2 linked regions of the Homo sapiens genome follow. The protein of the gene in region 1 interacts with the protein of each later gene in a biochemical or structural test. Each region holds a gene or a part of one and is shown in the gene's direction. Other genes may lie near its edges.

Region 1 (3,756 bases):
CTGCCACTTTCTAGCTGTGTAACCCAATGCATATTACTTAACCTGTCTGTATCTTAGTTTCCTCATCTATAAAACAAGGGATAACAATAGTACTCTTACTTCATAGGGTTGTCATCAGGATTAAAGCAATTAACATATGTAAAGTTAGAGTAGTATCTGGCAGAAGTAAATAACTGCTGCAATTGTTGTTGTTGTTGTTGTTATTATTGAGACAGAGTCTCGCTCTGTCATCCAGGCTGGCATGCAGTAGCATAATCACGGCTCACTGCAGTGTTGACCTCCTGGGCTCAAGAAATCCTCCCCCCTCAGCCTCCCGAGTAGCTGGGACTGCAGGTGCACACCACCACACCCAACTAATTTTTAAATTTTTTGTACAGATGAGGTCTCACTATGTTGCCCAGGCCGGTCTTGAACTCCCGGGCTCAAGCGATCCTGCTGCCTTGGTCCCCCAAAGTGTTGGGATTATAGGCATGAGCCATTGCACTTGGCCCATTGTTGTTGTTATTATTATTCAAGTTGCTCTGATGCATTTGTTGAAGGCATTAAGGAAGGAAAGAACTGGCTGGGCACAATGGCTCATGCCTGTAATCCCAGAAATTTGGGAGGCCAAGGTGGGCAGATGGCTTTGAGCTCAGGAATTCAAGACCAGCGTGGGGAACATGGTGAAACCCCGTCTCTACAAAAAATACAAAAATTAGCCGGGGATAGTGGCTCATGCCTGTAGTCTCAAATATTTGGGAGGCTGAGGCTGGAGACTCGCTTAAGTCCAGGAAGCAGAGGTTGCAATAAACTGAGACTGTGCCACTGCACTCCAGCCTGGGCAGCAGAGTGAGACCCTGTTTCAAAAAAAAAAAAAAAAAAAAAGAAGGAAGAAACTGAAAGAGACAGGCGGCATGCAGAATGTGTTGTTCAAGGAATGTTGGAATGTTGAGTTGTTGAGTAACCCAACATGTCAGAAGGGGAGTAATGGCCTAATGGGTCCATGTTGGGAAGATGTTTTGATGTTACAGTAAAGAGTGTCCATCTTATTTGGTAAGCAGTAAAAACCAATGGCAGAGTTTGTCCACAAATGAAAGAAAGGGCCAAAGAAAGAGAGACACAGATTGAGCCAAAAGATAAAGCATATAGGTGGTGAGGTGAGAATTGCACATGACGGGTGGTGGGTGCGAGTGTGGGATGGTCCCAGAAGTGGTGGGTGATGGGGACGTATGGGAGGATGGGTACAGGAGAGGGGGATGAGTTGAGAGGAAGGCGATATAAACATGTAGAGGATGGAGTGGGGAATCAGGCGAGACTGATGGGTCAGATGAGGAATTTTAGACATGCTAGGAGTGGGGAAGATAAAGGGTGATGGAGACAGGTGAGTTTTATGGGAACAGGTAAGGAGTGATGGGGCTGTGCTGGGAGATGGAGTCAAGCGGGTGGCAGAGAGCTGTAAGGAGAACCTGAGAGCTGGAGCGGGACAGCCAGAGAGTCCCAGGGCTGGAGGAGAGCGGAGCGGGGCCGTCGGAACGTGATGTCAGAGGAGGAGCCGTGATGTCAGAGCGGGCGGCGGGCGGTGATGTCAGGGCTGGTGCTGATGCTGGCGGCGCGGTGCATTGTGGGCAGCTCCCCGCTCTGCCGCTGCCGCCGCCGTCGCCCAAGGAGGATCGGGGCCGGGCCGGGCCGGGATGATCCGGGTCGGAAGGCCGCCGCCGCCGGAGGGAGCGGGTCACCCAACGCCGCACTGAGCCGCCCCCGCCCCGCCCCGGCCCCGGGGGATGCGCCGCCCCGAGCTGCTGCCTCCGCCGCCGCCGCAGCCGCAGCCGCAGCGGGCACAGAGCAGGTGAGGCGGGGCGGGGCGGGCCGGGGTCGGGGCGGGGGCTCCTTCGTGGGCTCAGGGGGCTCCGCCTGGCTCGCCTCCCAGCGCAGCCTTCTTGGGCTCCCCTCCGCGCTGCTGTCGCCGCCCGCTGGGCTGGGACGCTGGCCTACACCGCCTGGGCCGCGCCGAGGCCTGGAGCCGCTCCCTGTCCCCAGCACACAGACCTCCCTCCCCAACCCGTCCTCCGGGCACTTTGCTCCTCCCCACTCACCTCCGTCCCCTGTCCCCATGGCTTCACCCCTGGCTCTCCTGTCATCCCTGACGAATCATTCGGCTGTCTCCGTAACCTCCCTCCCTGTCCTCAGTCCCTCCATGCCTCCCACCTGCCTTCTTACCTACTTCCTCACCCCCTCAACTGTGCCCAGAGATCCCTCCCATGGTCCTATCTCTTCCTTGCCTGTCATCATTATCTCTCACGGGTCTCTATCCTACCCACCCCTCTCCTCTGATCCTGTCGCTCCTCATCCCTGCCATTCCCCTCTGCCTCCCTCCACACCTCTTTCACCTGTTCCCATCACCCCTCGCTAGTCTCCATCACCTCTCCTTACCTGGGCTCCCAGATTCTCACACACACCTGCTGACACCTTGCAGAGTTACACATCAACACTTGTATTCACAGGCCATGATGAGCTCCCACCAGTTCCACGTACCCCTGTGTACCATCACTGGCCCCACATGCTCCTATCTGCACTCTCTGACAGATATTCATACAAACTCCTGCATAAGCCCTCGCCTTCACCATGCGCCCATGTGCACATAGGGGTCTGAGGCGGCAGTAACGGGGCAGCCAAGTGTCCCATGTTTGTATCATCCAACCCAGTCTCAGCTGAGCATAGTCCTCAGACACAGAGAGAAGGAGGGTGGAGAGGGAGAAGCAGGTAACCCTCATTTATCTTCCTGGCTCCACTCTTCCTTCTCTTGCCTCATCTGTTTCTTTTTGGTTTGCTCATCTATAAAATGAGAGCAGGACACAAATTTTCCTTATCAACCTAACAGATCCACTGTCCCAGGACTGGAAAGCCCACCAGAGTTCACCCAGTTTAGCTTCTGAAGGCCCCCTCCCACCAGTTCAATTGCTTCTTCAGTCTTGTCCTCAACCTGTCTCCTCCACCTTTATTCTAGAACCCCCATCCCTACCTCTCCCTTCATCCTGCCACTGCCCTCACTGCCCTTCAAATTCCTGATGCCCCATATCCCACTTTGGCAGAAAGAGGGAAGTCCTGATGCTCTGAAGTTGTAAGGATTGGAGGAAACAGCTCAGCTTAGTCACTTGAAGAAAGAGAAAAGGAGTGGCAGCGTCCCTCCCCATGAAGATCCCTTCTCCATATGTCCACCATGGCCCATCATGAATTAGAAGGTGGTTTCCACACCTCCACGTCCCACCCTGTCCCCTATGGCAGGATGTCTAGATGCAAGAGCCCTGGGAAGTTATTTCATCCCAAGGAAAGGTGGGTTTATGTAGTTTCTACCCCATCTATACATCTCTTTAGCCACCTTCCTCCCCCGACCCGCAACCCCCAAACCCCAGCCTAAGTAACTTCCCTCTTTCTCTATTTGTGACTCTCCAGGGTCGTTGTGAGGGCACGGTAGTGTGCTTCTAAAAAGTGTGAGGGAAAGAGAAGAGGAAAATATCCTGGTTCCAAATCCTGTCCTGGGTTGGCAGAAATCTCAGAAAGTCATGTCTTCTGGCCCCTTGCCTACACACATGCATATCACACACAGACACAAAACACACACAAGAACACACAGATACAGAGATACATGTAGAAAAGCACACAGACACACAGAAAAGATAGACAAAGAAAGACACACAAAGAAACATACACACACAGAAGGATACATGCACAGATACACACACAGACATACACACACGCACACATGGGCATTTCTCCGGT
Region 2 (3,656 bases), on another chromosome or scaffold:
GTACAGATAAATTGTTACACTGAGTAGGGATCAAGATAGGAAAAGTCGGCAACTACCCAGCTCCCCTGCACCAAACTGGGCAGAAGTGGATCCTCTGAAAATTGCACACACCCATGTTTAAATGTACACACAGAACTCTTGCCACAGGCAAGCGGAGATTTGTCATCTGCTGTCCCTGCCTCATCTTCTTCCTGAAATCCACTCCATGCCAGGAATAAACTGCATGCTCTCCACCAGCCCAAACTGACCTGCCTTCCCGCCAGCCATCCCGGGCAGGGTGACCTGGCTTAGTACATCGGGTTCAGAGATCTTTCCAGTTTACTCGTTGAATAAAAAGTGAGGGCTGATCGAGAAAGTAATGGCAGTCAGGGAAGGCGAAGGAGGTAAAGAAGAGATTTTACAAATGAAGTAATTCAACAGAGTGCTGACATTGGTAAACTGGCAAACAGATTTCAGGGTGGTTGGTTGAGAGTAGAGTAGAAAAGGATTAAATAAAGCAAACTTGTGGTGTACTGAATCTTAGGAATTCCATGTATCCAATAAGTATAGTCATTTATGAATTAATAAATTCGGCCTAAGAAGCCTTCTTATCGCTTAAATCAAGACTAAGTAACAATATATCAGTTTTAAAAAGTCATTATATCAGAAAATCATTTAAATGATACACATAGATTTCCAAGATTTTACTTTAACCGAAACTATATAAATGTGAATTTGTTCACCCATCTTTTGACACAGGGCTCAGGTCTTCTCTTGGTGTCTGGATCAGCCAGTTGAAATTTCTTGTCTGTTTTGCCTATGCCACATTAATAATGCACTGTCTGGGTCCTCCGATTTCAGTTTGGATTTTGGGTTTACATTGTGGAGTCATCTGAATGCAGAATCCTTCAGGGATTTTACTTTTTTTTTTTTTTTTCATGGTCTTTACCATCCCATTTGATAGTAAATATTACTCACCTTTATGAAGTCTTTCCAAAACATTCAACTAAATTTTCTTAAAATCATTGAATGATTTGAAGAGCTTATTCCTCAGCACTTTTACTCCATCAGCTTGCACCTTATTTTTTAATCTTTTTTTGAGACGGAGTCTCGCTCTATCGCCCAGGCTTAAGTGCAATGGCGCGATCTTGGCTCACTGCGACCTCCACCTCCTGGGTTCAAGCAATTCCGCCTCAGCCTCCGCCGTAGCCGGGACTACAGGTACACACCATAATGCTCGGCTGATTTTTGTATTTTTGTAGGGATGGGGTATCGCCATGTTGGCCAGGCTGGTCCCGAACTTCTGACCCAAGTGATCCACCCACCTCGGCCTCCCAAAGTGCTGGGATTACAGGTGTGAGCCACCGCGCCCGGCCAGCTTGCACCTTATTTAGGATATGTGATTATTATAGCAAGTCTGGTGTACATACAAGATTTTGAATGGGCACAGATGACCTTTAGTAAGTGCTTGGCTGTGATAAGAGGCAGTCCTGACTGCAGATCAGGCTGTGTGGACCCCAGCCTTGCATGTTTACAGACCTTCATGTCTTATTCTTACAGGGTATCAGAAGAACACCTACTGGGGAAACTTATAAATTAGTAAAAGGTGGGCATTCTCCCCGCCCATCTTCTGTCTGTCTGCCAGGACTAGCACAGCACTTTGAAGTCATTCACATAGAATCCCAACTTAAGAGGGTAAAATCCTCCTCAACAGACTGAAAATAAGTTTAAATTCCCTTTGCTATATTAACTCCCCTGAGGAAAGAGTCTTAGATCAATGTCCAACACTAAAAACAGTTTTAAATCAGCAAGTGAGAATTAAATCTGAAGCAATTGATAATAATGTTTCATTCATTCCTCTCCTTTGGCCCCGTCCACCCTACTGCTAAATCCAGGCATCAAAGAGAAGAGGGACATAATTATCTCTAGTCCCAGCTGCTGGTTTTCCTTCCAGCCTATGGCCCAGTTTTCTGTTTTACTGAGAAGGCTGGTGATGTTATCTTGGGATCTAAGTCTGCAGTTTCACCACAAAAAGTCCAGGGATGCACTTTCATGCTTGTGTCCTCCTCCCTGGGATAGCAAGGATATTAGAAGACCCCTGGCTCTGTAATTGCTTGTCATGTGCTCTACAGACGCCACAGAATGCCAAGAACGAAGTGCTGGGAAGGACAAATTCATGGAACCGTGGGACGGTGCTCCTCCCCCAGCGTAAAGGACAGCTCCTCCTCCTGAATTGGAGCCAGCGTTCTAAATCATGTGTCAACAGAGTTGTCCTGGATCGGATCCAGTTCTGCCATTGATTTGCAGGTCATTTCAGTGGTACCTGTTTCCAGTTGTTCTTAATTGAACAGTGGCACCAAACTATTGTCTTGCCTCATCCCCCTCCCATGGCCTGTCCCCCAAAAAGAGACTTCTTGGGTAATTAATCAGGGCAACATCAGGCAGTCTGGGCGCGGTGGCTCACGCCTGTAATCCCAGCACTTTGGGAGGCCGAGGCGGGCAGATCATGAGGTTAGGAGATTGAGACCATCCTGGCTTTGTGAAACCCCGTCTCTACTAAAAATACAAAAAATTAGCCGGGCGTGGTGGCGGGCGCCTGTAGTCCCAGCTACTCGAGAGGCTGAGGCAGGGGAATGGCGTGAACCCGGGAGGTGGAGGTTGCAGTGAGCCGAGATCGCACCACTGCACTCTAGCCTGGGCGACAGAGCTAGACTTCTTCTCAAAAAAAAAAAAAAAAAGGAATCTCTTTGGTTTTATATATATTTTTTTTATATATATAATATATATTAAAATATAATATATATATTTATATAATATAATATATAAATATATTATATATTATATATTTTATATATTATATATTATATATATTATATATTATATATTTATATATTTATATATTATATATATTTATATATTATATATTTATATATATTATATATTTATATATAATATATATTATATATTATATATTATATATTATATATTATATATTTATATATATTATATATTATATATATTATATATTATATATTTATATATTATATATTTATATATATTATATATTATATATTATATATTTATATATTATATATTTATATATTATATATATTTATATATATTATATATTATATATTATATATGTATATATTATATATGTTATATATTATATATATTTATATATATAATATATTGTATATATTATATATCTAATATATTATATATATTATATATATTATATATTATAATATATATTATATATTATATATTATATATATTTTTATATATATAATATGTATAATATATAATATATATAAAAACATATATAATATATATTATATATTATATATATATTATATATATTATATATATTAAATATATTTTATATATATTATATATATATACACATATATATATATAAATGAGGCCAGGCTCGGTGGCTCACACTTGTAATCCCAGCACTGTGGGAGGATCACTTGAAGCCAGGAGTCTGAGACTAGCCTGGGCAACAAAACAAGATCCTGTCTCTACAAAAGGAAACTGTAAAAATTAGCTGGGCATGATGGCATGTGTCTGTAGCCCTAGCTACTTGGGAGGCCGAAGCAGGAGGATCGCTTGAGCCCAGGAGTTCAAGGCTACAGTGAGCTATGATTGTCCCATAGCACTCCAGCCTGGGT

The links. The genes of interacting proteins can lie anywhere in the genome.
Region 2: of the proteins of TTBK1 (region 1) and MAPT, one has a biochemical effect on the other in vitro, tested with the Homo sapiens proteins (one study listed by BioGRID).

Annotation. Positions count from the first base shown.
Region 1 is NC_000006.12:43,241,884-43,245,639, forward strand, and holds the start of TTBK1 (tau-tubulin kinase 1), read left to right. Parts: upstream 1-1,597; 5' UTR 1,598-1,825; intron 1,826-3,756. UniProt on the Homo sapiens protein: Serine/threonine kinase which is able to phosphorylate TAU on serine, threonine and tyrosine residues. Induces aggregation of TAU.
Region 2 is NC_000017.11:45,901,015-45,904,670, forward strand, and holds part of MAPT (microtubule-associated protein tau), read left to right. Parts: intron 1-3,656. UniProt on the Homo sapiens protein: Promotes microtubule assembly and stability, and might be involved in the establishment and maintenance of neuronal polarity.